Homo sapiens: one gene and its partners. The protein of the gene in region 5 purifies or fractionates together with the protein of the main gene of each other region. This does not show direct contact. Each region holds a gene or a part of one and is shown on either strand. Other genes may lie near its edges.

Region 1 (5,362 bases), about 52 Mb from region 5:
TGCTGTTAGTCTGATGGGCTTTCTCTATTTAAAAATTTTAAGTAACAATTCCAGACATTCATCAAAAGATATGCTTATCTTCATGCACCTCCTAAACACCTACTAAAACGGCATCTACAAATAATGAACCCCCTTCCAAATAGAGTGAAGAACCACTAAATTAGAGAAACATCTTTACTGACCTCTAGTAATTTCTAATTCATAATGAAATATATAGACTAGTCACTAAACTCTTAAAAGCACTGATGCTATAAGAAACGTAGAGAGCATCCACAAGCACTAAAAATGCAAGAAACTTAAAAATTGGAAACGTGTACACACAAAAACACAGTATTTTAACTTGTTTTTTATTACTGATAAGCACAAAACAAATTCCAAATGCTGAAATAACCTAATAATCTACCTAGATCAAAATCAAATATTTTATGTGATCAATAAAGGAAATGTAAAATCCAAGAAATTTAGAGTTTAACTGTACCTCAATTGTAAATCCAGTTCAATCTTATTAGTACAGTGTTAAACGATTTACCTAAAGTCACACAGGTAGTAAGAAGCAAATTTAGGCCAAGCTATAATTATCTTTACAACAGTCAAAATGAATTCAAAAGATAGATTAACACAACCTCCCTCAAGCCAATATCCTTTTGTTGAAGTTAAACTTTATTAGTTTGGGGTGGTTTTTTTGGGTTTATTTTTTGTTTTGTTTTTGTTTCTGTTTTTGTTTTTGCTTATTTATCATCTGTTTAAGAATTTTTCAGATTTTATAAAGGTAACGGTTTATATATTACATAAGAGCATTCCAGAAGCCAACATTATGCTGGAAAAATAATGTTAAGATTGATTATTTAACCTAAGTGATCTCCACCCAGGCTGAGACCTAAAGGATGAGTTTAATATTAAGCAGACTGGAGATGGGGCAGTTCAGGCACATGAAAAGCCTGAAAGTATCTTCTCAGAAATGAATAAAAGACCAAAGCAGCTGCAGTGAAATGAATGGGGAAATGACTTGCGGTAAGGGAATCTGGAGAGTGAAGCAAGGACCAGATCATGTTGGGACTTATAGAATCAAACAGAAATCTTCAACTCAGTCTTTATAGCATCATCTATATGTATGCCATGCAAAAACAAATACATGTCAAAATCTTGATGTTCAGGATTATCTTACATACTGAAATCAAACAGTATGCTATGGTATATTTACCTTATTCTAAAAAACAAGCCTTTAAAATATCACGATAACCCTTTGATCAATATCCACCATCCTGCCAGGTTAATAAGGCCATTTCATTCTATCATGCCATAACACAGTCATGAAAAGGGTGGACATGGAATATATGAGTAAAGATACATAAAAGAATACATTTTGGTATTGTTTATTTACTTACAAAAAATAAATGACATGAGACTAATAGATTAAAATAGAGTCTACTTAAAAGTGCTTGTATTCTTTTTTCTCCTACATGACCAAAAATATTGTATACTAAATTTAAAAGATCAAAATTCCTTTTATACAATATAAAATATTTTATAATACTTCATTACCTCATAATATTCCATTAAAAGGAACATAGCTTTGCAGTTTGCCTTAAGAGAGAAAATAAGTACAGACCAAGAGATGTGTTACCATGCAAGACTGATTTTTGTTAAACTTGAAAGTTCTTAGTATAAACAAACTAACTTCAAAAAAACTATTAATAAAACATACAATCTAAAATGTGAATATCGATTTTCTACATAACTGGCATTTCTACAAAAAAAAAAAAAGTTTAAGCTTGAAAACACTCTTAGAAAGTATATGTCATCAAAAGCATAGAAAATGCTTAAAGGGGCCAGGCGCGGTGGCTTCACACCTATAATCCCAGCACTTTGGGAGGCCTAAGTGGGCAGATCACCTAAGGTCAGGAGTTTGAGACCAGCCTGGCCAACATGGTGAAACTCGTCTCTACTAAAAACACAAAAATTAGCCAGGCGTGGTGGTGAGCACCTGTAATCCCAGCTACTCGGGAGGCTGAGGCAGGAGAATTGCTTGAACCCGGGAGGCAGAGGTTACAGTGAACTGAGATCACGCCACTGCACTCCGGCCTGGATGACAGAGACTCCATCAAAATAAAGACAGACAGACACATAAGAAAGAAAAGAAAGAAAGAGCTAACTTAAGTTTTAAAATTATTTTTTAAAGCCCAAATTTGAATGAAATCCCATTGTAGTAACGCATGTTATAACAGCTGTTCATAAAGATTAGTCAACTGTACTGGTGACAGACTAATGTGTTCACAGTTTGGTGAACTGTCTGGAGGGGAGATATAGTAAAATTACGGGGATGATTTAATGGTTACTGAATTTTTGCTAAAATTTCTCTAAGATCTTAGCTTCTTAATTTATACTGCTAAATAGCAGCCAAAATCCATTGCAAATACTGTAGAAGCTTAACAATTTCAAGATTTTTAAGTCCTAGCATATGTCCCATTTATTTCATGAAATAATTTTCTGAATGCCATTTTCCACCCACCTCAAATTCCAACAATATTAAACAATGCCTTGAAAATAGTAAGGTTGTGTTATTTTACTGAATATCATGTCCAACAGCTGTATCTAAAATTGGAAACTGATGTCAAAACACATTTTAAAAACTAAATTTAATAGAAATAGATTATCTTTTAGAATAAATTGCTTAAGAAATGCTGCCCCCACCAAAAAAAAACACAAAACAAAAAACACTTCACTTGTTCACAAGTTTTAAATATGCATAAGTTTACTAGTCTCAACTGACCCTTACTGTGTCCCAGGGGTATATACAGATCAGTTCCTGGCACTATTGACCAATTCCACATAATTACTGTCAGATCTTTTCATTTCAGAGTTAACCCCCAAAAAAGCATTAGAAAGAAAAAATACGAAGACACTGAAGCATCATACTTACTTCAGATTACAAATCTTTTAAGATTCTGTCTCAGAGTCTAAGGTCTAGACTTAACCTGTTTTTTTGTACTACCATTTACCAATGTACTAAATAGAATTACTAAACTATAATAATGATTTACAGAGAAAAAAAGAAACTATTTGCCTTTTACTTCTTAATCCTTATCTAAACCGTCTTTCCTACCATATTCATTCTATTCATTACACTTCATATGAGACAAATCCCTAATCCCCTTTTAAACTACTATTTTTAAAAAACTATAGCCTGAATAGGTACATATGATTTACGTATATGTAAGGACAGTGACATTTGAATGTCTGCAATAAGAAAAGTAGGATTTTTACATTTCTAAGACAGACATCAGCATAATGTACTAAAGAACTTTTAACTACTATAGCTGTCTAAAAATGGAATAAGCTGATTTTCAAAGAAATAATACACTGTAAAAAGCTTTACAACTGAAAACATTTAACAGATATTACTTGAATAATCCTTTCTTCTTTAATCTTTAAAACAATCCTGTTAGGTAAGTATTAACAACCCCATTTTACTGATTAAAAAAACTTAGAATCGGAAACATTAAGTGACTTGCTCAATACCATCCAACAACTTTGTGGTAATACAGAATGTGAAATGGATGCTCTATCAATACTGCCCCCTCCACCCTTCCTCCCACTCTCCACCCCCATCTATTGGCAAAATCTCTGAAACTTTCCCTGGTACCATTCCTATCAATATACAATGAGATGTCCCTCCCTGAGTCATGTGACAGTATATATATATATATATATAGATATATATATATCTATATATAGATATATATATATATATATAGATATATATATATATATAGATATAGATATATATATATAGATAGATAGATAGATATAGATACCTTTTGTACAGGGCTTATTAAATGGATTGTATAATAATTAGTTATTTGTGTACCTACCTCCTACATAGTAAGCTACTTGTTTCCTACGGCCATCTTTCCATCCTTTCAATCCAAATGCCTTGTAACAGATTGTAAAATGAACAGACAAATTCAGTTCTTTTGGTTATAAATTCAAAGAGCTCTCAAGAATTTCACAGACAACTTCCTATCACCTTATACTAACCTCACCTTACACTAATAATTTTCAGTCATGTTACAACCATTTACTAAAGTTCATCAAATGTATTAGAAAAATGCAGGATTTAAATTATAAGGCCATAATTTAACATATGGGTAATGAGTGAAAGCTGAAGAAAGAAAAAAATAGCATTCTGTGAAGAGTCAGCAGCAATGACAGAAAAATAGGAAGTAAGCCAGAGCCCACAAACCAAAAAAACAGAATAAAAACCAGTCTGACAATCCCCTGAGAAGCTGGACACCCATGTCCAGAAGACCTATAAAAACAAGCTTTCTATTTCCCAACATGTGTGAGAATATGTGCTAACCTATGCAATGGAAATATAAAGAATAGTTCAAAGACTAGACAAAAGTATACAAAGGACAAAATTCAAAATGGTCAAAAGATATGGATATGTCCAGAAACTAGTCCAGGATGTCAAATGACTTTGCTCTACTGATTCTGAAGTGATGCTTTCTTAAGGGCGATTGTCTGTTTCTAGGGTCTTTCTAAAATAAAAGTCCCCACCCCCTTTTTGGACTTGAGGTATCCAAAATTGTTTTATTATTTTTGTTTGATTATCTTGAAGAGCAATCAAAAGTGTCAATGGACTCTCAGATGAAAAGCCACAAAAAGTTCAAAAACTTACAAAATTTATTAGATTAAAAACTGCTCTACTAAGAACCATCTCTAATGTGTTCTGAAGCCGAAATCTAGGAAGACAGTTACTAAAGAAACAGCCAGTAAAGGAGAAGTAGGTGGTTCCTTAAACTGTTGTTTGAAAAGAAACTCCTGAAACAAAGTCTGGAACATCGTTTTGCACACTATTGCCTCACAAGATCCTTGGCTACCCTTAACTCCACATATTTCCCCTTAAAGGAAGGTTTTGGTTTTTGTTTTATTTCATGTGTGTAAAAATTTGGGGGTAGGAAGAAAGGCTTGAAAGAGAGCATCCCACTCCCAATCCCCTTTCAGAAGAGCTTAATTAAACCCACTCGTTAAAGTTCAAAAGAAAACAACAACAACAACAACAACAATAAAAACCAAATTTCTCAAGAGTTTGAAAGCCCCAGAATGTTGGAGCTGAAAAGGATCTAATCCAATAGCTTCATTTTATAAAGAAGGAAGTGAGTCCAATAGTAAAAATCTATCAACTTTTCTAAAGTACCGTTAGCTAAATAATCTTTTGTTTACTTCAAAAACTACATTTTCACCAGTGAACTTAAAAAATATGTTGTTCCCTATATAAATTACTTTTAAAGGCAAAAACAACATTCACTGAAAGTTTTCTACAAAAAATTATATCAAAGTAATAATGGAAAAAAATCAG
Region 2 (5,362 bases), on a different chromosome or scaffold from region 5:
GCCAGACTGGTCTCAAACTCCTGATCTCAAGTGATCCACCCACTTCGGCCTCCCAAAGTGCTGGGATTACAGGCGAGAGCCATTGCACCCAGCCAAAAAACCGTATTTTATACATAGAAAACACAAACAGTAAATCAAAACACGTAATAACATCCAGGCTTACTAGTAATGGGAAATTAAAACATTAAGTGTTAGAAATATATTAAAGTAGGCCAAGTGCAGTGGCTCACGCCTGTAATCCCAGCACTTTGGGAGGCCGAGGCGGGCGGATCACGAGGTCAGGAGATCGAGACCATCCTGGCTAAAACGGTGAAACCCCGTCTCTACTAAAAATACAAAAAATTAGCCGGGCGTAGTGGCGGGCGCCTGTAGTCCCAGCTACTTGGGAGGCTGAGGCAGGAGAATGGCGTGAACCCGGGAGGTGGAGCTTGCAGTGAGCCGAGATCCCGCCACTGCACTCCAGCCTGGGCGACAGAGCGAGACTCCGTCTCAAAAAAAAAAAAAAAAAAAAGTTAGCCGGGCATGGTGGAGGGTGCCAGTAGTACCAGCTACTCAGGGGGCTGAGGCAGGAGAATAGCGTGAACCCAGGAGGCGGAGCTTGCAGCGAGCGGAGATCATGCCACTGCACTCCAGCCTGGGCGACAAAGCGAGACTCCGCCTGAAAAAAAAAAAAAAAAAAAGAAATATATTAAAGTAGGCCATGTGCAGTGGCTCATGCCTGTAATCCCAGCACTTTGGGAGGCTGAAGCGGGCGGATCACCTGAGGTCAGGAGTTCAAGACCAGCCTGACCAACATGGAGAAACCCCGTCTCTACTAAAAATACAAAAGTAGCCGGGCGTGGTGGCGCATGCCTGTAATCCCAGCTACTCAGGAGGCCGAGGGAGGAGAATCGCTTGAATGCGGGAGGCGGAAGTTGCGGTGAGCCGAGATCACGCCACTGCACTCCAGCCTGAGCAACAAGAGCAAAACTCCGTCTCAAAAAAAAAAAAAAAGAAATATGTTAAAGTAGCAAAATAAATTAAAGTGACCACGTTGATGGAGCTGTGGAAATACAGGTACAGAGCTTGCTCAATATATTGTCAACTGGTTCTGTGTTTCAGGAAAAGCCTCAAACTATGCAGCAAAAGCTCTAAAATGCTCATGTCCCTCAATATAGTAATTCATTTCTGAGAGGTATTCCAGAAGTATGACCCCAAAGAATACAGCGTCTTATTTATTTATTTATTTATTTATTTTTTGAGACGGAGTCTCACTGTTGTTACCCAGGCTAGAGCGCAATGGCGCAATCTCAGCTCACCACAACTTCCACCTCCCAGGTTCAAAAGCTTCTCCTGCCTCAGCCTCCCTAGTAGCTGGGATTACAGGCACGCACCATCACACCCAGGTAATTTTGTATTTTTAGTACGGACGGGGTTTCTCCATGTTGGTCAGGCTGGTCTCGAACTCCCGACCTCAGGTGATCCACCCACGCTGGCCTCCCAAAGTGCTGGGATTACAGGCGTGAGCCACCGTGCCTGGCCAGAACACAGCTTTCATAAAGTTTATATTATTATCACTAATATTGGTGAAATTTAGCCCAAATCCCCAGGGAAGCAAGTCTCATGAGAAGTCCAACAGGGAAGAGAATCACTTGGGCAGAGGGAAGAGGAGACTGTTAAGCCTAGGGAGAGAGGGCAACGGAGTGCGGTAAAGACTGATGACTTAAAAATCAAGTTTACTACCTCTTTCCAGTTTCAAAGAAAGGTGCATTATTTCATATTTAAGTGTTAATGATGGCAATTTGCCAGGATACTGCATCAGCTTCAAGGATAACTATGTATCATACAATCTCTATATTCCTAAATAGATGGTAATACGAAACAAGGCAATGTGACCCCAGTCCATGGGTGAGGAATAAAGAAAGAAAGGAACGAAAGGAATGGAGGAAGGGAAGAAGACAGAAAGAGAGCGAGAAAGAGGCCGGGTGCAGTGGCTTACACTTCTAATCCCAGCACTTTGGGAGGCCGAGGTGGGCAGATCGCCTGAGGTCAGGAGTTCAAGACCAGCCTGGCCAACATGGTGAAACCCTGTCTCTACTAAAAATATAAATATTAGCCAGGTATGGTGGTGCACACCTGTGATCCCAGCTACTCAGGAGGCTGAGGCAGGAGAATCACTTCAACCAGGGGGAGGTGGAGGTTGCAGTGAGCCGAGATTGTACCATTGCACCACTCCAGCTTGGGCAACATGAGACTCCTTCAAAAAAAAAAAAAAAAAGAGGAAGGAAGGAAGGAAGTGAGCAAGCAAGCAAACAAGGAAAACAAAGCAAGAAGAATCTCCAGAAATGGCCACATCTTGAAATGATTACATATCTGTGAAGAGCAAACAAACGACCTGTTTTGTGGCCTAAAGAAACATATGGTCAGGATGATAACATGGACCCAGTTCCCCAGGCTGTTCCTTTGATCCCAGAACTCCAGGGAGGTGAGCCTATCACCCAGGTTCAGGCCTCTGCCTTTGATTATGGCTCCCAGACCCACAGGGCAGGTGTATATCCGAGTTTCTTCGTGTCCTTAGAGGAAAGAAGACACACTCTAGAAAGAAGGATAATGCTGGTGACTGAGACTTTCTGTAGGTGACTGAATTTTAGGATTTGGAAGGAACATGGAGTGAACCTGAATACTTCTGAGCCCCTTCACTTCTCAGCAGCTACCCAGAAGTGAAAGAATCCCAAACCCAAAGTTACAGCTACTTCTGTGAGACCGCGTTAGATAATCACTGTTCACTGTTGATCCATTTTCCAAAGTCTCAGAATTTAAATAGTTAGATCTCATTCTATATAAGCTGCTCTATTGCCGATCTCCTGGACGTTGACTTTTTGTGTATTCCATATAAGATAAAACCGTCACGTGATGCAAATTAACCAACCTGACTTATTTCCAAGGAAAAGATCAGTCATCAACCAAGAACAGCAATATGAATTAGCAAAATTCCAGCAAGAAAAAAGACTAATCTTAGGACACTGTTCTCTAAACCACAGAGATTAAGACAACGTTGGTTTAAATACAAGAAAATACCCAAAACTAGCTGGGCATGATGGCTCACGCCTATAATCCCAGCACTTTGGGAGGCCGAGGCGGGCAGATCACCTAAGGTCGGGAGTTCGAGACCAGCCTGACCAACATGGAGAAACCCCGTCTCTACTGAAAATACAAAATTAGCCGGGCATGGTGGCACACGCCTCTAATCCCAGCTACTAGGGAGGGAGAGGCAGGAGAATCACTTGAACCTGGGAGGCGGAGGTTGCGGGGAGCCGAGATCGCGCCATTGCACTCCAGCCTGGGCAACAAGAGCAAAACTCTGTCTCAAAAAAAAAAAAAAAAATACCCAAAACTAAAAGCAATAAGGGAACGAAAACTCTAACAAATGCAAACTTGCCCACAGCCATATAGGATCTCTGTCCAACTTCTGTTTGCCTCAAACCAGTATAGTTCAAGTCTTCCTTTCTTCCTCTCTCCTTTCAAAAATTAGGGCAGGCCGGGCGTGGTGACTCACACCTGTAATCCCAGCACTTTGGGAGGCTGAGACAGGTGGATCACCTGAGGTAAGGAGTTTGAGACCAGCCTGGCCAAAATGGCCAAACCCCATCTCTACTAAAAATAACAAAATTAGCCGGGCATGGTGGCAGGTGCCTGTAATCCCAGCTACTCAGGAGGCTGAGGCAGGAGAATCCCTTGAACCCAGGAGGTGGAGGTTGCAGTGAGCTGAGATCACTCCACTGCACTTCAGCCTGGGGCACAGGATGAGACTCTGACTCAAAAAAAAAAAAAAAAATTAGGGCAAATATATATTTGTGATATTACTTTATAAATGAGGCAGAAGCATTAGACCAACAAGAGGTAAGAGGTATACTTAACAAATCCATTAGCCTCAGACTATTTCACATCTTATGCCTCCTATGAACAGCATGACTGTTAAGTCGAATAAATTCTATAATGATGAATACTGAAACAGAGTTCTGTACCACAAAGCTACTTCAAAATTACAACACACACACACACCACGCATGCATGTACACAAACACACAGATACTCCAAGCGAGGAGGACTACATAAAGAATCTTATCTCTCAGGCCGGGTGCAGTGGCTCATGCCTTGTAATCCCAGGACTTTGGGAGGGCAGATCACGAGGTCAGGAGATCAAGACCATCCTGGCTTACACGGTGAAACCCCGTCTCTACTAAAATACAAAAAATTAGCCGGGCGTGGTGGCGGGCACCTGTAGTCCCAGCTACTGAGGAGCTGAGGCAGGAGAATGGCGTGAACCCAGGAGGCGGAGCTTGCACCGAGCCGAGATGGCACAACTGCACTCCAGCCTGGGCGACAGAGTGAGACTCTGTCTCCAAAAAAAAAAAAAAAAAGGAAGGATCTGTCAGCCAGGCGCGGTGGCTCACGCCTGTAGCCTGTAATCCCAGCACTTTGGGAAGCCAAGGTGGACAGATCACCTGAGGTCAGGAGTTAAAGACCAGCCTGGCCAACATGGAGAAACCACGTCTCTACTAAAAATACAAAATCAGCCGGGCGTGGTGGTGAGCACCTGTAATTCCAGCTACTCGGGAGGCTCGGGCAGGAGAGTCACTTGAACCCAGAGGCGGAGGTTGCAGTGAGCTGAGATCATGCCATTGCACTCCAGCCTGGGCAAAAAAAGCAAAACTCTGTCTCAAAAAAAAAAAAAAAAAAAAGAATCTTATCTTCCTTTACAAACCTTTCTTTCAGGCTTATAATTTCAGTACTGACCATCTTGAAGTTGAAGTCTTGAGTGTTTAGTAAAGTGTCTGGAACATCAAACCATGACCAGAAAGCTGCAGTACCCATGGAGATGACAATAAATAACATTTTCCTTAAACCAATTCACACACTGAAATCAGCAATCAAACACAAAATGATGTTTCCCTGATATCTGCATCCCTTTTTCTTTCCCTTTCTTTACTCCTGCCATTTTGATAATTAGACATGAGGCTGGGCAGTTCAAATTCCAAACACTCAAACCTGCCAATGGCCTTGTCTATGAAAACAAACCTATTTCACATTAAGATCAAAAGCAAAACTTTTTGAAGGAAGCCAGATATTTAGGAACAATTTAACAAAGAATTACTGGCAACACAAGAGTTCCCAGACATGTAGGGGAAAAAATGTCTAAAAAGACTGAAGTCAGATGAAGAGAATCATGGACTTTTTTCCAAACTGCCTTATAACCCTGCTAGTGGGCAATGAGATGAGACAGGTAGCTGCCACTGCCTGCTGCCCCCATTAAAATCCACAGCTTTAACTGCATTAGAGCAGAGAGGCGCTTTCCAGATATTGCTGAGGCACTAACCCTCTG
Region 3 (5,362 bases), on a different chromosome or scaffold from region 5:
GGCTATCCTGATACATCTCTGAGAATTGGGCCAAAAATAAACTGGTCTCCAGGAAAAAACAGATTGCTCATATGCCCATGGTCTTTAGCTATTAGATCAAAATGTTGTCAGTGGTCCCTTAGGATTTGTCATGCTTAATTCTTCCAGGCTAGGATTTCATATAGTATGTTAACACAATTTATTAAAAATTCTTATGAACGTGGATAAAACGAAGCCTAAATTAGAAGAAAAGGAGCTCTTCATTTTGTGGATTGGACCTCAGTTTGGTAACAAGTACAGTTAAATTGTATCCTACTGACTCACTAGTTATTCGGTACCTAAAGTAAAATCTACAGTTAGATGTTAAAAAATGCTTCCACATTATTACTACTTGAGTTACATTTAACTAGTAAAACAATCAAAGAATGATATATTTTCTGTGAAGAAGATAATTATACAAATAAGAACTATGAGGTCCTGAAAAACAAATCACTGTATCAGACCTCATCTTCAAAAAGTCTCATATTACAATCGCCTTTTATATCTAATATTATCAAAAAAGTGTTCCAGAATTTTTCTTATGAGATATCACCAACACTCTCAACTCCTAATAAAGTCTTTTATTTTTAATAAAAGATTATCAAGTTATCAATTTCTATTTTTAAATAATTATTAATTTTTTTTTTGTCACCCAGTCTGGAGTGCAATGGCACAATCTCGGCTCACTGCAACCTCTGCCTCCTGGGTTCAAGCAATTCTCCTGCCTCAGCCTCCCAAGTAGCTGGGATTACAGGCGCCTGCCATCGCACCCAGCTAATTTTTTGTATTTTTAGTAGAGACGGGGTTTTGCCATGTTGGCCAGGCTGGTCTCAAACTCCTGACCTCAGGTGATCTACCCACCTTAGCCTTCCAAAGTGCTGGGATTACAGGTGTGAGCCACCATGTCCAGCCAGATAATTCTTTTTTTTTTTTTTGAGACGGAGTTTCGCTCTTGTTGCCCAGGCTGGAGTGCCATGGCGTGATCTCGGCTCACCACAACCTCCGCCTCCCAGGTTCAAGTGATTCTCCTGCCTCAGCCTCCCGAGTAGCTGGGATTACAGGCATTCACCACCATGCCCGGCTAATTATGTATTTTTAGTACAGACAGAGTTTCTCCATGTTGGTCAGACTGGTCTCAAACTCCTGACCTCAGGTGATCCACCCGCCGTGGCCTCCCAAAGTACAATTTACTCAAATTAATCTCTTCTTCTGGTTTCTAAATTATCTTTTGTGAAATTGCATAATGATGAGAATCACTTCTAAAATAGTGACCATTCCTTTCACAAAGCTGCCTAAAAACCACTTGCGTTCTATATTGCTCACTCGCTTTTTCTCATTGCTTTCTCTTATTTTCTCATCATTCTGGATTTTTGAAGAAATCCTCACTATAATTCTGCCAATGTCCTTTTGTGTAGCCCACCAGCTCTGCATGCGACGCTATAACAAAAATTAAAAGTAACGTTAGCTATTACCACTGAGGATTTTAATTATTTTAGTTTCAGGATCCTATATGAACTGGTTGTTTAACTATGTTAATAAAAAGAAGAAGGGACTCTGAAATTTGTCCCAATGATAAAAATTTGGCCCCATAGCACACAAGATGCCTAAGATAACCCAAATTCCTGTTCACTATTTAAAATTCTCTAGTTCAATGTTTCCTAAGTTAACTGTTTTCCTTATTTTCTTGAAAATTTCAAGCTAAAATCCATTATTTTAGCATAAAAATGTTTTGTCAATTGAAAATTCTTCAAAAAAGAATAATAAGAATTTAGGCTGGGCGCAGTGGCTCATGCCTGTAATCTCAACACTTTGGGAGGCCAACTGAGGTGGGCGGATCACTTGAGGCCAGGAGTTCGAGACCAGCCTGGTCAACATGGTGAAACCCCATCTCTACTAAAAATACAAAAAATTAGCCAGGCATGGTGGTACGTGCCTGTAATACCAGCTACTCAGGAGGCTGAAGCAGGAGAATTGCTTGAACTGGGAGGCAGAGGTTGCAGTGAGCCGAGATCACACCACTGCACTCCAGGGTGACAGAGTGCAACTCTGTCTTAAAAAAAAAAAAAAAAAAAAAAAAAAAAAAGAATAGTAACAATTTATTTTTCATAACACACATTTTATTATTTCTTCACAATAACATAAGACTTATATACTAGCAAGAGTTCTCAATATACAATTCAGCTTTCCTGAATTTATATATATCAGAAGATGTAAGAAATCACCATGAGTTACTCAGAAATTGGTTTTCTAAATTGGTATCCTTTAAATAAAGGATTGATTTCCTTAGTATCATTAGCCTTAGTTAATTTAAAACTAGGATTCAGATATTTTAAATATGGGCAAGTTTATTAACTCTCATTAAGTAAAGTAATAAAAATAATTAAACTAGCAGACTGTACTGTATTTAAAATACATACTTTTGGCCTGGTATCCATGACGTACATATAGCGATTGACTGGATTGGCTTTACTAATGGCTTGAAGCAAATGTTCATCCTCCAGGCACCTGGCACTGAATCCAGAGAGTGGCTGACTACATCGACAAATGGCAGCCTATTTTTTAAAGGACAGAAAAGAGATTATGCAAAGATCTCTAAAATGTCTTTAAAGATGCTTACAAGAAAAAAAAGCCAAAAGTGTTAAAATCAAATATGATAATTAGGAGGCATTAACTTTAAGATCCTCTTTGAATTAAATACTATTTCAATATTTTGACATTCCTAAGTTTTCCCAATATTCTATTCTCATAAGAAAACTAAATACCTCCTTATCTAGTTTGATGAAGAAACCTGGGTCCTAAGAAATAACACCCAGTCAATTCTCTGTGAAGTAACCTACTGTTATCTTCATTCTGCGCTCCATTTAGATTACAGGATCCTTCCAACTGAAGTTCAAGTAAAAGATTAGTCAATAAAAATAGAACAAGAATTTTTAAGTAGCAACACTGGAACTTTTACTTTCTAAAGGTTTTAAGATCTCTAATTAGAAATCGGCAATCTTAATATAAAATGAGAAAAATGACCTTCAATTCAAATTTGAGTTAAAATACAGTCAATCGAATAGAGCAAGAATTATCTATAAGTAGTGAGTGGTTGGATTCATTATTTACTGTTTTTTGTTTGGCTGGTTGGTTTTTGAGACAAGGTCTTGCTCTGTCACCCAGTTTGGAATGCAGTGGCGTGATCACAGCTCATTGCAGCCTTGACCTCCTGGGCTCAAGCAATCCTTCCAACTCAGCCTCCAGGGTAGCTGGGACTACAGGAACACACCACCACGCCTGACTAATTTTTGTATTTTTTGTTAAGATGGGTTTTTGCCATGTTGCCCAGGCTGGTTGTCAACTCCTGGGCTCAAGCGATCTGCCCACCTCACCTCCCAGCATGCTGGGATTACAGGCATAAGCCATCATGCCCAGCCTACTATTGTTTAAAGTCCTAAAAAAAGATTTAAAAGATTTAGATCCATATACTTTTTCTCCAATGGAAAACAAAAATACATGCAAATTCACACAATTGCATATTTTAAACTCACAAAATAAAACCACGAAAATATGATAAAACAGTAGAAAATGAACATTGCCTTATTAAATTCTTTTCAGACCTACTTTCTGATTTGTTAAGTTGTTCACAGAATAACTATTTTCAGCCCAACTTTCCAATAAACAATGTTTACACATATGGCTGTGTCAAGAGAGGCCATAACCATTTAACCTCTCTGTGATTTAGTTGTGAAAAGCAGATTAGAAACTTCTGTCTAAACCCTTACCCCTTTGCCTCTGCTCCTTCCCAAAATCCAAGTCAGGTTCGAATAAAGAAAGTTAAAATGCATAAAACCACAGGGACAAAGAGAATGGGAAAAAAGACATAGAGATGTCAATAAAATTTGGGGAGATGACAGCTGACTAGCAAGTGATAACCAATTTTACAGGACAAAGAAAGCTGCTAACTCCCTTAAGTCAGTAAGAAGCAAGGTATTTTGTGCAGCAAAATCTCAAAAGGCTCAAAACCTCTGAAGGCTTGAGCAGGTATATAACTGAAAAAAAGGAGAACTGCTTGAATGCCTGTACGAGAACTAGCTAAGACCACCAGATTCTCCCTTACCTTGAAGACAAAGTTTATTCCATGATAAGGATGAACCTGAAGACTCTATAGACAATAGACACAGCTGTGGGCAGGGGTGAAGCCCTATACTCACAAAGACTAGGAGCATTAAGTAAAGTCTACATAACAAAATGTGAAATCCTGACATCACTCTTCTCACCCTTGGATCATGGCCAGACTTACTATACACATTGGGACCAAAATTAGAGGTTTGTTCTTTAAGGAAACCAACTTATACAACAGAAAGAATCCCAAAGCCAGGCACGGTGGCTCACACCTGCAATCCCAGCACTTTGGGAGGCCGAGGCCGGTGGATCACCTGAGGTCAGGAGTTCGAAACCATCCTGGCCAAATGGTGAAACCCAATCTCTACTAAAAATATAAAAATTAGCCAGGCATGGTGGCACATGCCTGTAATCCCAGCTACTTGGGAGTCTGAGGCAGGAGAATCACTGGAACCCAGGAGGCGGAGGTTGCAGTGAGCCGAGATTGTGCCACTGCACTCCAGCCTGGGAAACAAAGCGAGACCTTGTCTCAAAGAAGAAAAAAGAAAAAAGAAAACAAAGAAAGAATCCCAAGATACAAACCATTCCTGCACACAAACTTCAAAACAGCTTGAATATGAGAACTCAGCCAAGAAACAGGTATTTGAAAGACATGAAAGACAAAAACACTAAATAAATAGAAAAAAATGGAACTCTGAGCAAAACAATAACTAATGTGGGAAGCATGAGAATTATTTTTTTAAATCTTTAACATCCTCAAAGAACTAAAACATCACATCCAGGAATAGAAAACCATCTTTAAAAATTTCAGAAAATAGGAAAAGCTCTCAGATATTAAAAACACCACAGCAAAAAAAGGATCTAAGACACAGACTGGAGATGAGGTTGAGGAAATCTTCCAGAAAATCCAAAAAAAAAAATGAAAAATAAAGGAGAAAGTTTTTAAAAAAGTAGAAGTTTATTCTACAAAGCCCAATTGTCAACTAATAAATAAAAAGGACAAAGAAAATTAATAGAACAGAGGAAATTATCAAAGAAATAGAGAAGCAAATTCCCAAAATTGAGACCTGAGTTTCTGGATGAGATTTAAAAGGACATTACTGTGAAATTTCAGAACAAGCAGGGCGCAGTGGCTCACACCTGTAATCTTAGCACTTTGGGAGGCCGAGGCGGGTGGATCACTTGACGTCAGGAGTTCAAGACCAGACTAGCCAACACGGTAAAACCCTGTCTCTACTAG
Region 4 (4,965 bases), on a different chromosome or scaffold from region 5:
CAGGAGAATTGCTTGAACCTGGGAGGCGGAGGTTGTGGTGAGCAGAGATCGCGCCATTGCACTCCAGTCTGGGCTACAGAGTGGGACTCTGTCTCAAAAAAAGAAAAAAAAATACAAAAATTAGCTCGGTGTGATAGTGCACACCCGTAGTCCCAACTACTTGGGAGGCTGAATCAGAAGAATCGCTTGAGTGTGGGAGGCAGAGGCTGTAGTGAGCCGAGATCAAGCCACTGCCCTCCAGCCTGGGTGACAGAGTGAGACTATCTAAAAAAAAAAAAAAAAAGAGCTGTGACAGAAACAAAACAAAGGCCAAATACCAAATACCATACCAGTATCAGTGGGTTCCACAGCCCTGGATTCAACCAACCTAGAACCAAAAATATTTGAAGAAAAAAATCCACAAAGTTCCAAAAAGCAAAACTTAAATTTTGCCCCATGCTAAGTACTAAGTTGAATCCATGTGAATGAAGTGATGAGTAGGCACTGCATTATGTATTACAAGTAACCTAGAGTTACTTGTAATTTAAAGTATACAGGAGGATGTGCATAGGTTATATGCAAGTACTATCTGATTTTATATAAGGGATTTGAGGCCAGGCATGGTGGCTCACACCTGCAATCTCAGCACTTTGGGGAGGCCAAGGTGAGAGGATCGCTTGAGCCCAGGAGTTCAAGACCAGCCAGGGCAACATTGTGAGACACCCATCTCTACAAGAAAAGGACAAAAAAAGGTAATTGAGCATCCAAGGATTTTGGCATCCAAGGGGGTTCTGGGAACAATTCCCATGGATACAAAATGACAACTATATATTTCATATTATACCACAGGGATATTAAAAAAAACCTTGAATAAATAGAAAATGGAATAAACATATATTTTTCTTAAAGAGAAAGGCTCAATCAGCTAAAAATGTTGATTTTCCCTAAAATATATCTTTTATATGATCCCAATTAAACTATCTACAGGATTTTTTTTTTTTTTTGAGATGGAGTCTTACTCTGTCGCCCAGGCTGGCGTGCAGTAGTATGATCTCAGCTCACTGCAACCCCCACCTTCTGGGTTCAAGCAATTCTCCTGCCTCAGCCTCCCGAGGAGCTGGGATTATAGGCACCCACCACCACGCCTTGCTAATTTTTCTATTTTTAGTAGAGATGGGGTTTCACCATGTTTGCCAGGCTAGTCTCAAACTCCTGACCTCAGGTGATCCACCCACCTCAGCCTCCAAAAGGTCTGGGATTACAGGCATGAGCCACCACGCCCGGCCTACAGGATTCTTTTTAACATTATAAAATGTTACTGGCTGGGCATGGTGGCTCATGCCTGTAATCCCAGAACTTTGGGAGGCCAAGGCGGGTGGATAACTCGAGGTCAGGCGTTCAAGACCAGCCTGGCCAACGTGATGAAACCCCATCTCGGGCAACCCGCTCGGGTCTCTCACACTGTGGAAGCTTTGTTCTTTCGCTCTTTGCAATAAATCTTGCTGCTGCTCAAAAAAAAAAAGAAAGAAAGAAAGAAAGAAACCCCATCTCTACTAAAAATGCAAAAATCAGCCAGGCATGGTGATGCACGGTTCAAGAATCGCTCGAACCCAAGAGGTGGAGGTTGCAGTGAGCCGAGATCACACCACTGCACTCCAGCCCAGCCTGGGTGACAGAGTGAGACCTCGTCTCAAAAAAATTAAAAAAAAAAAAAATTGAAGTTCCATTTCACTCAGAATTATATAAGCGTAAATCAGAAAAAGATATCATTTTCACATCATAGATTAGCAAAAAGTAAAAGCTCAATAACACCCAGTTTGGACAAGTACACAGGCATCGCATGAAGTGTGGGTAGCCATATAAACTGGTACAACTTTTTTAGGAGGCAAATTGGTAATCACAAAAATTAAAAATGAAAGCTGGTCTCGGTGGCTCACCCCTGTAATCCCAGCACTTTGGGAGGCCGAGGCAGGCAGATCATCTGAAGTCAGGAGTGCGAGACCAGCCTGGCCAACATGGCGAAACCTCGTCTCTACTAAAAATACAAAAATTAGCCAGGCGTGGTGGCACAAGCCTGTAGTCCCAGCTACTCAGGGAGGCTGAGCCAGGAAAATCGCTTGAACCTGGGAGGCAGAGGTTGCAGTGACCCGAGATCATGCCACTGCACTCCAGCCTGGGTGAAAGAGCAAGATCCTTTCTCAAAAACAAATTAAAAATGAACATGCCACTTAACCTAATATTTCTACTGCCAAACATTTACCTTATGTTGTTATTTTTCCACCAGTATGTAGGTATACAAACAGATATTTGCAAGAAGGAAGAAATGGACATAAGAAAAATTTCCATCAATAAAGGATTGGGCTGGGCATAGTGGCTCATGCCTGTAATCCCAACACTTTGGGAGGCCAGGGCAGGAGGATCACTTAAGCCTAGGAGTTCAAGACCAGCATGGGCAATATAATGAGGCCCTGCCTCTACAAAAACATTTAAAAATTAGGCCTCAGTTTCCATATATGTGAAGTGAGGAATGGGGACTGTGTTTTCTCTTGGCCTCCTTCCAGCTGTGATGGTCTGTGAATCTCCTGGAAGCCAGCTCTGGGTCCAGTCCTGTCTTGGGGAAATTAGACCAGAAAAGCACAGAACATACACAAGAACCCAACAGCATCATCTGATACAAGCCCATACTCCCACTGGCACACAGTATCTTTGCTTACCTAATTACATGCACGCACACGTACAGAGGCCCTGTCTCTACAAAAAAATTAAAAAATTAGCCAGACATGGTGGCACATGCCTGTAGTCCCAGCTACTCAGAAGGCTGAGGTGGAAGGATCACTTGAGCGTAGGAGGTAGAGGCTGCAGTGAACTGTAATCACGCCATTGCACTCTAGCCTGGGCAACAAAGTGAGACTCTGTCTCAAAAAAAAAAAAAGAGGTATCAGTTGTAAGCTGGTAAGAACGATACAGTGGAGAAGGAAAATTTGAGGACACAAGAAAGAGAGGAGTAATTTCAAGAGGAAAGTCTTTTTTTTTGAGACGGAGTCTCGCTCTGTCGGTCACCCAGACTGGAGTGCAGTGGGTGAGAGGGGATGGGATCCAGGGCACCAGTGAAGGGTTGGCCTTAGGGGCAGTGACGTATCATTTGCATAACAGAAGACTGCTGATTTCGGGGAGGGAGCACATACAAGTTTCCTGATTGCTCCTATTTTCGTTTCCTTTTTTTTTTTTTTCCTTTGAGACAGTCTCCCTCTGTTGCCCAGGCTGGAGTGCAGTGGTGCAATCTCAGCTCCCTGCAACCTCTGCCTCCTGGGTTCAAGCAATTTTCCTGCTTCAGCCTCCCAAGTAGCTGGGATTACAGGCGCACACAACCATGCCCAGCTAATTTTTTAAATATATTTTTAGTAGAGATGGGGTTTCACTATGTTGGCCAGGCTGGTCTCGAAGTCCTGAACTTCTCAGTGAGTAAACTTCTCAGGAAAAGGGAGAACGTGGAAAGATGTACTGAGCTTTGAGGAGAGAAGACAAATTGTGAAATAATTATCTGAAAGAACTGGTAAATGAATCAACCAGGGAAACACAGAACCGCCAGGTATTGCCAAGGGTCCCTTTTGGGGTCTGTGGTTATAGATTTAAAGTGAGACAAGTCAACAAAGCTATGCATTTTTCTCCAGCCAGATTCAGCTATCCAAGTGCAGGTGCAGAACAGTGGATTTAACTGGCAAGTTACTATAGGTGAAATGGTGGATTAACTGGGTTGAGAACAGAGAGAGACAGAATCAACGGGGTTAAGGCAGTGATTACAATTAGAAGCCTTAGAACCTGAGGTGAGGAGGAAGGGCAATGAGGACCCGAGGGATGTTGATGGAAGATGCAAAAGTGAGAGGGTCGAGAGACTGAAGGTACCTGAGGAGTCAGGGAAGTGCTGAAGTGGAGAAGCTAGAGAGGGGAACAGAACTGGAATGACAGGAGGAGGTCAGCAGATAAAGGGAAACTTGAAATCAAGATTTTGGAAGTTGTGCGTTATTTTGTTAATGACACAGTCTAAAGCATGAACAGAGGAGTGGGATGCTGAGATGTAAGAAGACAAATCTTTTTGGAAATGAGGAGTTGAGAAAATTGAAAGGCCCAGATGTTGGATGAATTGTCTGTGCGGATGCTGAAGCCACTGAGAATAACAACAGAAGCAGTGATGAGAAGAAAACAGTGAGCCAGGAGCTGAAGAGCTGTAAGGAGCGCAATAAGAAGAATGGCAGGTGGCAGATGATCTTCCAAGGCGCTGGGAAGTCTTAGAAAGAAGAAGAAACTAAAATCTAGAGATAATGGAAAGCAGAGAGGTCACTTCCTCCATTTCCAGGCCCAGAGGAAGTTGAATTTAGGAAAAAAAAAAAAAAAACCACAATCACTGCTTGACAAGGATATAAGGAATGCTGTCCCTTCAGGAGAGAACCTGAAGTTTCCAGTAAAAAAGATGAAAAAGGAAACGTCTGGCTGGGCACAGTGGCTCATGACTGTAATCCCAACACTTTGGAAGGCCAATGCAGGAGGATCACTTGAGGCCTAGAGTTTGAGACCAGCTTGGGAAACACAGAGAGACCACATCTCTACAAGTAACTTAAAAATTAGGCCAGGCGCGGTGGCTCACGCCTGTAATTCCAGCACTTTGAGAGGCCGAGGCAGGTGGATCACCTGAGATCAGGAGTTCGAAACCAGCCTGGCCAACATAGTGAAACCCCGTCTCTACTAAAAATACAAAAATTATCCAGGCATGGTGGCGGTTGCCTGTAATCCCAGCTACTCATGAGGCTGAGGTAAGAGAACCACTTGAACCCAGGAGGCAGAGGTTGCAGTGAGCCAAGATCGCACCATTGCACTCCAGCCTCGGTGACAGAGTGAGACTCTGTCACAAAAAAAGAAAAAATTAGCCAGGCAGTGTGGCATGCGCCTGTGGTCCCAGCTACTTGTGAGGCTGGGGCAGGAGGATTGCCT
Region 5 (5,362 bases):
TAGGTGCTGGCATGTCTATGCTTGAGTCTGAAAGATGATAGGCTCCTACAAGTAGTTTTAGGGACTCCTATCCAGTCCTTTCTTTTTTTTTTTTTTTTTTTTTTTTTGAGACAGAGTTTCACTCCTGTTGCCCAGGCTGGAGTACAATGGCACGATCTCAGCTCACCACAACCTCCACCTCCCGGGTTCAAGCAATTCTCCTGCCTCAGCCTCCCGAGTAGCTGGGATTACAGGCATGCACCACCACGCCTGGCTAATTTTGTATTTTTAGTAGAGATGGGGTTTCTCCATGTTGAGGCTGGTCTTGAACTCCTGACCTCAGGTGATCTGCCCGCCTCAGTCTCCCAAAGTGCTGGGATTACAGGCGTGAGCCACCGCACCCGGCCTATCCAATCCTTTCTATTCAACTTCCTTATTGCAAACAGACCTACCAAGGGAAAGAGGAGTTGGACTTTGCTTCCTGAACTATGTAACAATCTAAATATAGCAGAGTCCTCTCTTATCCACAGGGGAAATGTTTCAAGACGCCAGCAGATGCCTGAACCCCTAGAGAGTATGGACCCTATATGGACAGTTGTCCCTCAGAATCTGCAGGGCACTGGTTCCAGGATCTCCTGCAGATGCCAAAATCCACAGATGCTCAAAAGTCCCTTATATATATAAAACGGTGTCGAATTTGCATATAATCTATACCCCCTATATACTTTCAATCTTCTCTACATTACTTACAACACCTAATACAATGTAAATACTATGTAACCAGTTATTATACAATATTGGTTTTTTATTTGTACTGTTTTTTATTGTTGTATTGGTATTTTTATTGTTTTTTTTTTTTTTTTTTTCTGAATATTTTCGATCCAAGTTTGGCTGAATCTGCGGATGTGGAGCCCATGGCCACGAAGGGCTGACTCTACTTTGTTTTCTCCCTATATACACAGAGCTATGATAAAGTTTTATTTATAAATTAAGCACAGTAAGAGATTAACAGGAATAACTAATAATAAAACAATTATAACAATATACTGTAATAAATGTTATCTGAATGTGGCTGTTCTCTCTCACTCTCAAAATATCTTACTACATCATACTCACCTATTTTCTGACCGTGGCTGACTGTGGGTAACTGAAACCACGGAAAGTAAAACTGCGACTAAGGGTGAGCTCTTGTAGTAGCAAGTTGCAATTACATATGCTATTCCACATTTCAAAAATCTAACTCAAACTTGACCAATTACTACAAGGAACTATTTGCAAAAAGATGAGGCATAATTTTTCCTTTGCACTCTATTCCTGCCTTCCCCATCTCTAGGCCTACATTATCTTCCCCACTAAAACCCAATGCCCAGTATTTTTCTATCAGCATATCAATGCCCAGTTCCAAAGCCGAGTGCGCAAGCAGACTTTACATTTGGGATGTTTCTCTGCTTCTACCGTGGTGGTGCTTAATGAGCTGGTGCTCTAAGAGGCAAGCTCTGGAAACTCAAGGGTTAAAGTGCATCTAATATTCCTGGCATTCATTAATCCTATCATCTTGCTGTACACTCAGGTCTTTCTGGAGATAACAGTGTAAGGACATTGCCCCCTATGTAAAGGCCTTTGAAGCTTGAAGGAGTATATGGCTAAGCGAAAGTAGGGAAAAGAGCTGGACTCAAGAACCAGAAAATCTAGATCAGGGGTCAGCAAACTACAGCTAGCTGGCCAAAGATGGCCCACTACCTGTTTTTGTAATTAAAATTCGATCAGAACACAGCCATGTTCACTCACTGATGTGTTTATTGTCCATGGCTGCTTTTGTGCTACAACAGCAGAGCTGAGTAGTCACAGATACTGTGTGACCTGCAAACCCTAAACTATTTACAATCTGGCCCGTTACTGAAAAAGTTTGCTACCTCTCATCCTAGATGAAATCAGGACCAGCTTTATTAATAATTTGGTGGCAAATTCTACCTAAATTTACCCAATCTAAAGTGAAAAACAGTGTTAGAAATAGAATTATTTCGAGTACAGTGGTGCAATCATGGCTCACTGCAGCCTCGAACTGCTGGGCTTAAGTGATCCTCCTGCCTCACCCTCCCAAGTAGCTAGGACTACAGGCACATGCCACTACACCCAGCTAATTTTTTGTAGAGATGGGGGTCTCACTTTGCTGCCCAGGTTGGTCTCAAACTCCTGGCCTCAAGCAATCCTCCCACCTCAGCCTCCCAAAGTGCTGGGATTATAGGTATGAACTATCACACCAGGCTGAGAACTTATAAATGTAAAAGTGAATTTCAAAACATGAGCTTCTCTGACAGATTAGTTCTAAACTAAAGTTCAACGTTACTTGTCATGAGCCCTATAAACTGTCACATTTAAGACCTTAGCTTTGAACTGGATCTCTTCCCTCTAATTTCGTCAGAGAAACCCTTATTCAACAAACACTGAGCGGCACTTACTCTGTGCCAGACCCTGGGTTAGCCACTGGCACACATAATAAAGCTTATACTTCTTCGGCCTGGACATGTAGTAGAATATTTCAGGAAAGAAAAAACCATGAGGGACACATGTAATAGTTCTTACAGTTGAACAATTTTACTCTGCCACTATTCTACCAGAATATTTGGTGAGTAAACTCTTGTGTTTAGAATGTGATCTTCCTAGAGTGGGTTATGGAACTCATATCTCTGAGGCAGGGTCTATGATAGAATTCAGGAAGTCTGTGAATTTGGATGAAAAAGACTGTATCTTTATTTTCACTTCAGTGATGAACATAAGCTACAGCAGTAATAGCAGACTTATTAGACAAATGGATTTGTTACCAGTAGAAATCATGGATATTTTCATACCATATCATACTTCTTAAATTTTGATAACTATATATCAATATAATTCAATATAACTGGTTTTCTTTATAGTTCTATGTATTTTATTTTTGCATATAAAAACATATTCCAAAAAGGAACTCTAAAAGCTTTCACCACACTGCCAAAGGAGTCCATAACACAAAAAAGATTAAGATTCCTGTTCTACGGTCAAAAAATAAAGAAACATAATCACATTTAGGGTAATTTTCTGTATATAAAAAAACTACCTGTTTTTTATTAAGGGTCATATGCTCATTTTCTATAGAGCAGGGACCATATGTCATTATTTTTGGCAGCCTTCACTTCAAAACTGGTTTGCAAGTAGTTGTGAATGTGATATAACAGCCTAGCAGATTCATGGGTTCCCCTGGCTCACTGGCAGTCATCCTAGTCCAAACATAGAAAGCCTCAAACTAATATAACTTTCAACTTGTGGTACAAGAGAATTCCCAAAAGAAAGCAAGGGGCAAGGCACAGTGGCTCACGCCTGTAATCCCAACACTTTGGGAGGCCGAGGCGGATGGATCACTTGAGGTCTGGAGTTTAAGACCAGCCTGGCCCACATGATGAAACCCCGTCTCTACTAAAATACAAAAATTAGCTGGGCGTGGTGGCGGGCACCTGTAATCCCAGCTGAGGCAGGAGATCGCTTGAACCCAGGAGGCAGAGTTTGCAGTGAGCTAAGATTGCACCACTGCATTCTAGCCTGGGCAACAAGGCAAGACTTGGTCTCAAAAAATAAATAAATAAATAAATAGAAAGAAAGGAGGGAAAAGACACACACAGAAAGCCTGCTATTAATATATATCTATTAACCTGGTTTACGAATGGTAAAATACAGGTAATTCAATTATTTACATTAATGAATAAGGTAGGTAACAAACCTAAAAGAATGCCAAATATGAGACTCATTTCTTTTTATCTTCTGAGGTGGCGCTTCGGCACATGCTGCAAACGTAAAAAGGTACATTCCTTGAATTTACTGGCTAAATTGTAGAAAGGAATTAGGATTTAAATTCTGCCACAAATAATCCACAAAGCAATTAACAAAACAAATCACAGATGAAACATGTGTTTAAGTACTCATTTGACAGGAATACTGTGAAAAGAGAGGTTTAGGACTAAAAACAGAAAGGTTTACGCTTAGGAAAGAGGTTCAAGGACTTAGGGAAAAGGAGATGCCAGAAGCTGCCAAGCAGATAAGCAGGAGGGTTGACAAGGCCTAAAGTGCTGATCCCCTCACTCTCCCAAGTCACCCCTTTTTCTAATATGCTTGATGTGTGATAATGTCAAAGATGTACAAGCAGCCAGCCACAATCTTGAGCAAAAAAGGGACTCTCACAGTCCTGTGATAATTGGCAAGTGCCCTGACTTTAGGGTTTCTCCAACTGGAAACAAATCCAAGAAAAAAATGACTTTTACAAAAATGTATTCTTTCCAATCTATTTCAAGGTAACACAAACTTTGATGTAAGGGAGACCTATTTCTGCTTGATTCAGAAAGGGAAATTTCTATTAGTAGAAAAATCAGAAGGTCTGCTTCAGATCAGTTATGTAAATACTTAGAAAAGCATGATGCTTAAGTAAGAACTCTACTATTATTAGCAGATATTTTGCTATTATCCATCATTAATAACAATGGAAAATTATGCTTTTTATTTGAGCATTTCAAAAACTAATTCTCATCAGCACTTATAACATCTCTAGGAGAGGTTATTCAGCTCCCTAGGGAAATACTGTCTAACTTAAAGGCCAGACAGCTCTGAATTATAAATGGAGTCAGATGGTTTACAAACTCTATGAAATTACATACAAAATTTGGTAAGTTCACATATATTTCAGATTATTAAAGGGCTGTTTAATCATAAGAAGAGTTACCTCTGGCCATGGTTAGAAAATCTACAACAAGAGAAAGCAATAATGCTTTCCATACATAGTCACAGGGCGAGTAAATGTTAACATCGGAGAAAGTCACCAGGGACTGCTAAGTCCAGGCTCTATCTGACGAGGTCATTCTTCTTAAGGGATCACATATCCAAAAAGCAGGTCCCCAGGGAAAATAAAACCCCACTGCTTATGGGAGGAGAGTCATAGACTGAGGGGGAATGAAGCTCATTCTTTATCAACCAGGCCATCATGCTAGTTTTCAAAGGGAATTTGCAAAGCAAATCTTTTGTCCTACAAAAAGATTCATTTCATTCAGCAAAGAAAAAAGACCCTAGAGGGAGTACTGCTGAATCCCAAGCCTCTTCCACAGTCTGTTACCTTGAAGCATAGATGCTGTTCTAGAAGAAACCCCTGGGTAGTTCCTTTTAGCTATGTAGAATGTAAGTCAAGTAAACATCTAATGTGCTAGAAAAAGGTGTAACTAACCAATTTATTTAGCCAAGAAAAGGCTATCCCCCACCATTCTCAACTCATTCCCATTCAAGAACCTATCTGAACTCTATTCCCCTATTACAGAGTGTAGGGGGCAGGAGTGGTTATCAGATTAATACACTGTACGATAAATTAAAT
Region 6 (5,362 bases), on a different chromosome or scaffold from region 5:
AAAATCAAGCAGTTGGCCAGGCGCGGTGGCTCACACCTGTAATCCCAGCACTTTGGGAGGCCGAGGCGGGCAGATCACAAGGTCAGGAGATCGAGACCATCCTGGCTAACACAGTGAAACCCCGTCTCTACTAAAAAATACAAAAAATTAGCCAGGTGTGGTGGCGGGTGCCTGTAGTCGCAGCCACTTGGGAGGCTGAGGCAGGAGAATCTCTTGAACCCGGGAGGTGGAGGTTGCGGTGAGCTGAGATCATGTCACTGCACTTCAGCCTGGGCAACAGAGCGAGACTCGGTCTCAAAAAAAAAAAAAAAAAAAAATCAAGCAGTTAAGTTTTGTCCATTACAATGTATATAAATCTTACCCAAAAAAAAACTATTAAAAAAATCTAGTGGAGGTAGGGGAGTAAACAGAGGTACCACTCAAACAAGAAATGGCAAAGTATTAATTGTTGACATTAAGTGATGGGTACATGGGAGTTCATTATACTATTCTGTTTACTTCATATATGTTTGAAATTTTCCATAATTAAAGGTTTTTAATAAATAATTTCCCTTAATTCCCCCTCAGTGGAGGAGAAAATTAATAATCACTGTCCTTCATATAAGTTAAAATCTTCAAAGGAAGTCTCTAAACTTTGTTTTCTACACCAAACAATCCCTGTCCTCTACACTTTCTTCATATTCATCATAGTTACAGCTCACCTTGAAATCTGCCCATATTTTCTGTATCTTATTTATGTACTACTATCTAGTAGGGAGAAACAGACTGGAGCTATGACTTCATTAGCCTCTACTACATGCCTGGCAGTATGCTACCTACTTTAAATAACTACCCACTTAAATCCCAAAACTGAATTTAGCATCTAAAACTTTAACCCTTAGAGTGACTTTAGTTAACACTAATTGACTGTACATTTCAAAATAGCTAAAAGAGAGTAACTTGCATGTTCTTAGCATAAAGATAAATATTTAAGGGTTCCCAAGTACCCTGATTTGATTATATGCATGTATCAAATTATCACATGTACCCCAAAATATGTACATCTATCATATATCAATTTAAAAAATAATAATAAAATAAAATTTTAATGTTTCTTTACTGATCACCCTCACTAGAATTTATGTTCAATGGCAACACTGATCTTATCTTGTTCACAATTTCTTCACATCAGGCACATAGCAGGTACTCAGTAAATACATGTAAATCAAAGAATGAAAGAATATCAGAGCTCATAAGTACCCGGTTTAGCTCTCTTCTTAGTAGTGTAAATCATTTCCTATTCTAGCTATATCCAGCTTATTTTGCCTCTAATCTTATTGGCATCTATATCAATTGTTATGTATTTGTTTCAAGTGGAGTAGAATGACCCGTGTTTGAAAGCGTCACATTTTCTTTATTCACACATGTAGTGTAGTAAATCAATGTATATATTGCCAAGAGTCTTTGAATGATGTATTTTTTATATGTGGTCTTACTTTTTCTGTTCATATTGATACAAATAAGGAGATTTTTTTTCCTTAAGAGACAGGGTCTCACCATGTTGCCTGGCTTCCTAATGCATTTTGACAGTCTCTTTTTTGATAGTATCACCATCACAAAGCTGAAAACCCCTAGCAAATATTGAGAACTCAAAGTTCCTAACACAGGGTAAATTATAATTAAATTACTATTGAATTAATAATTACTGAGTTAATAAGTTATCACTGAGTTAGTAATATTGAGTTGTAATAAAACCAACCATAAATTTTATTTCAAAAGAATTTATCTAACAAACTAAGCATCTACATAAACTTAAAATCAAATTGTTAGATCCCTTCACAGTGAATCCAGGTTTGTTCTCAGAGTACATTCTTCAGTAAACATTTGGGGTGTGGTTTATGAATAAAACTACCAATACTTTAGATTAGAATTTGATTTCTACCTCAATTTCAAAGAGTAATTTTTTCATTCTTAAATAAAATCCTTAAAACATCCATAAGTTAAAAAGCTTAAAAGGGAAGGGGGATGTTATTAGTGATATTATAAAATACAAAAACTGAGTGAAATAGTTGTTAACTACAGTAAGTCAATGGTAAGTACTAGAATTTTCCTCATTAGTAAGCAAAATATGCTACCAAAGAAGATGGTCACTGCAATGTTTCTCTGACCAAATAAAAAACTTTTAAAAACATGTTTTAACATTCCAAGGGAGAAGGCAAAAGAGAAGCAAACTTCACTCACAAAGAATCACTCACAAAGAATGACATTTTATATATATATATATACACACACACATATATATAACTTTATTAAACATTTCACAAATGTCTTACATATATCATTTGCCACAGATTTAAATCCAAATTCTTCCAAATGCTATTTGATGTTTATAGATTATACGTAACTTTAAAAAACATTTAATTCAAATGTGCCAAATGCAGCAAAGGGCTGGAAAATAGAGGTTTCAAAGTAAATAGTCATTTAGAGACACCAGCAAATAGATCTGACCTTTTCGAGTGGCTTTCCCAAAGAGTTTCCAATCAGTTTCCAGTCATTCAAGACTTCTTCAACTTTGGAAATAAACCTAGGAAGTAGGGAGAAAGCTTCTAAATACAACAGCACACCTTTTTTCCTATTATTATGTAATTTCTTTAAAAAGGTATTTTTTATATTTTAACAATTTGACCAGAGAGGACTCAGTACATTTAGTATTGCTAGCTTAATTTATGGATATGGGGTAAGAGAAATAATCTTCTTTCATTCAAGAATTCTTAGGTTTTGATTCATTTATATCTATTGCTTACCCAACAAAAGCATTCTGCCTTCTATAAAATGTAAATTAAGAATTGATGAATCTCTAATAAAACGAATAAAACAAATTTGGGGCACAAATAAAAACTGACAGACTAAAATGATACTATTAAAGATAATTATGGGCTGGGTGCAGTGGCTCATGCCTGTAATTCCAGCCCTTTGAATTCCTAACCCTGAGGTTGGGAGTTCAAGACCAGCCCAGCACAAATACAAAAAAAATTAGCCCGGTGTGGTGGCACACATCTGTAATCCCAGCTACGCAGGAGGCTGAGGCACAAAAATCACATAGAAGCGGACGTTGCAGTGAGCGGACATCGCGCCACTGCACGCCAGCCTGGGCGACAGAGTGAGATTCCATCTCAAAAATAAATAAATAAATAAAATTATGAAACCAATCATCTCTCTCCTACCCACAATAACTGACCTATTTAAATAAACTTTTCCTTTAAATATATTAGGAATTCCGATTTACCCCCCCAGCCCCCAACAAAAAAAGAAAATATTATTTGGTAACTTGGTTCATGAAACTAAAACAAGTTTTAATGGACAGCTGACAAGAAATTGCAAGTAAATATGTCAACTTTAAGTATAAGTGACAGGTCTTAAAACTAGTCACCAATCTTTAAATCCAATGGTCAAGAAGGCCTATTAAAAAGAGAACTGAATTTTGAGTAGCAACATGCTCAACATCAGTAAATGAAAACTGTCAAGTCTCAGTCAAAGACATTTTCAGAAGAATTATTCTTACTCTAAGTTGACTTCTTATATAAGCTAAGTATGATGCAATCTAACAGCAACATTGCTCTCTAAACACCTGGAAGTACTGCTAGAGTACTAGAGTTAATTCTAGTCAAACTGTATGGAAAGGCAACAGATTTTTTCCTTCAGTGACATTATGAACTAATATGAACTAATAATTATGTTTTAAGATAGTAATAATAAATCTATGATTCATCTGAGGCTTCTTACTAATTCCTCTTTAAAATTAAATGCAGTATCAATTCATACACTAATTCATGGGGGAGGTCAGTCAAATGACAATTACTAGGTTTGAAAATCAGTGCTCTAGAAACAAGTTTACATGTTTACCAAAGAGGAAAAATTTAATATATCCACAGGCAAGCAAAAATTTGCATGAAATGTATACTATATTTACGAAGCTAAAAAAACTGGAAGTTACCTTAATGCCCAACTGCAGGAAATACTTGTAAATTAATCCACTCAGAGGACTAATATGCACCCAATAAAAATCATGTCAATCAAAAGAAAATATACAAAGGCCAGGCACAGCGGCTCACGCGTGTAATCCCAGCACTTTGGGAGCTGAGGCGGGTGGATCACGAGGTCAGGAGTTCAAGACCAGTTTGTCCAAGATGGTGAAACCCCGTCTCTACTGAAAATACAACAAAAATTAGCCAGGCGCGGTGGCAGGCACCTGTAATCCCAGCTACTCAGGAGGCTGATGCAGGAGAATTGGTTGAACCCAGGTGGCAGAGGTTGCAGTGAGCCAAGACTGCACCACTGCACCCCAGCCTGGGCAACAGAGTGAGACTCTGTCTCAAAATAAAAAAGAAAAGAAAAAGAAAAAGAAATATTAATATTTGATCCAAAAAAGTTTTTAACACACGTTAGAAGGAAATATGTCGGCCGGGCGTGGTGGCTCATGCCTGTAATCCCAGCACTTTGGGAGGCCGAGGCGGGCGGATCATGAGGTCAGGAGATCGAGACCATCCTGGCTAACACAGTGAAACCCCGCCACTACTAAAAATACAAAAAATTAGCCGGGCGTGGTGGCGGGCACCTGTAGTCCCAGCTACTTGGGAGGCTGAGGCAGGAGAATGGCGTAAACCTGGGAGGCAGAGCTTGCAGTGAGCCGAGATCGCGCCACTGCACTCCAGCCTGGGCGACAGAGCGAGACTCCGTCTCAAAAAAAGAAAAAAAAAGGAAATATGTCAAAAAATTAACAGCAGTTATTTCCTGGTGTTAAGTTTACAGGTGATTTTTATTTTTTATTCTACTATAAGGTATTACTATTATAGTGAAAACTATTTAAAATATAGTTTTTACAGTAAAAGAAGAAATGTCTTTTTTTTTTTTTTTTTGAGACAGGGTCTCAACTCTGTCACCCAGGCTGGAATGCAGTGGTGTAATCACAGCTCACTGCAGTTCTGTCCTCCAGGACTCAAGCAATCCTCCCATCTCAGCCTCCTGACTAGCTGGGACTACAGGTGCACATCACCATGCCCAGCTAGCTTTTGTATTTTTAGTAGAGACAAGGTTTCGCCATGCTGCCCCAGCTCCTCTTGAACTCCTGAGCTCAAGTGATCTGCCTGCCTCAGCCTCTCTAAGTGCTGGGATTACAGGCATGAGCCACCATGCCCGGCCAGGAATGTCTTAAAATACTTATTGTATGAATAATGAATTCTATCAGTACTAGCTAAGAGACTTGGACTTTATCCTACAAGTATTGAGATTTGACTAGAAAAACTAAGTAATTTTTTCCTTAAAAGCTCTCAGGAAATGAAGGGTCATTTCCTGATTCCTTATTCTATATTAGGTCCCTCTGTTA

The links.
Region 1: the proteins of PCYT1A (region 5) and DIPK2A purify together in Homo sapiens (co-immunoprecipitation; one study listed by IntAct). This does not show direct contact.
Region 2: the proteins of PCYT1A (region 5) and ACOX1 purify together in Homo sapiens (affinity purification with mass spectrometry; one large-scale study listed by BioGRID and IntAct). This does not show direct contact.
Region 3: the proteins of PCYT1A (region 5) and MTMR6 purify together in Homo sapiens (affinity purification with mass spectrometry; one large-scale study listed by BioGRID and IntAct). This does not show direct contact.
Region 4: the proteins of PCYT1A (region 5) and S100A13 fractionate together in Homo sapiens (co-fractionation; one large-scale study listed by BioGRID). This does not show direct contact.
Region 6: the proteins of PCYT1A (region 5) and RAB3GAP1 purify together in Homo sapiens (affinity purification with mass spectrometry; one large-scale study listed by BioGRID and IntAct). This does not show direct contact.

What each region holds. Positions count from the first base shown.
Region 1 is NC_000003.12:143,977,033-143,982,394, reverse strand, and holds part of DIPK2A (divergent protein kinase domain 2A isoform a precursor), read right to left. Parts: intron 1-5,362. UniProt on the Homo sapiens protein: May play a role in cardiomyocyte proliferation through paracrine signaling and activation of the PPI3K-AKT-CDK7 signaling cascade.
Region 2 is NC_000017.11:75,967,945-75,973,306, forward strand, and holds part of ACOX1 (peroxisomal acyl-coenzyme A oxidase 1), read right to left. Parts: intron 1-5,362. UniProt on the Homo sapiens protein: Involved in the initial and rate-limiting step of peroxisomal beta-oxidation of straight-chain saturated and unsaturated very-long-chain fatty acids.
Region 3 is NC_000013.11:25,259,233-25,264,594, forward strand, and holds part of MTMR6 (phosphatidylinositol-3,5-bisphosphate 3-phosphatase MTMR6), read right to left. Parts: intron 2,977-5,362; exon of another isoform or gene 2,781-2,976; intron 2,571-2,780; coding exon 2,436-2,570; intron 1,456-2,435; coding exon of another isoform or gene 1,342-1,455; intron 1-1,341. UniProt on the Homo sapiens protein: Lipid phosphatase that specifically dephosphorylates the D-3 position of phosphatidylinositol 3-phosphate and phosphatidylinositol 3,5-bisphosphate, generating phosphatidylinositol and phosphatidylinositol 5-phosphate.
Region 4 is NC_000001.11:153,620,192-153,625,156, forward strand, and holds part of S100A13 (protein S100-A13), read right to left. Parts: intron 1-4,965. UniProt on the Homo sapiens protein: Plays a role in the export of proteins that lack a signal peptide and are secreted by an alternative pathway. Binds two calcium ions per subunit. Binds one copper ion. Binding of one copper ion does not interfere with calcium binding.
Region 5 is NC_000003.12:196,279,745-196,285,106, forward strand, and holds part of PCYT1A (choline-phosphate cytidylyltransferase A), read right to left. Parts: intron 3,795-5,362; exon of another isoform or gene 3,731-3,794; intron 1-3,730. UniProt on the Homo sapiens protein: Catalyzes the key rate-limiting step in the CDP-choline pathway for phosphatidylcholine biosynthesis.
Region 6 is NC_000002.12:135,055,212-135,060,573, reverse strand, and holds part of RAB3GAP1 (rab3 GTPase-activating protein catalytic subunit), read right to left. Parts: intron 2,564-5,362; coding exon 2,488-2,563; intron 1-2,487. UniProt on the Homo sapiens protein: Catalytic subunit of the Rab3 GTPase-activating (Rab3GAP) complex composed of RAB3GAP1 and RAB3GAP2, which has GTPase-activating protein (GAP) activity towards various Rab3 subfamily members (RAB3A, RAB3B, RAB3C and RAB3D), RAB5A and RAB43, and guanine nucleotide exchange factor (GEF) activity towards RAB18.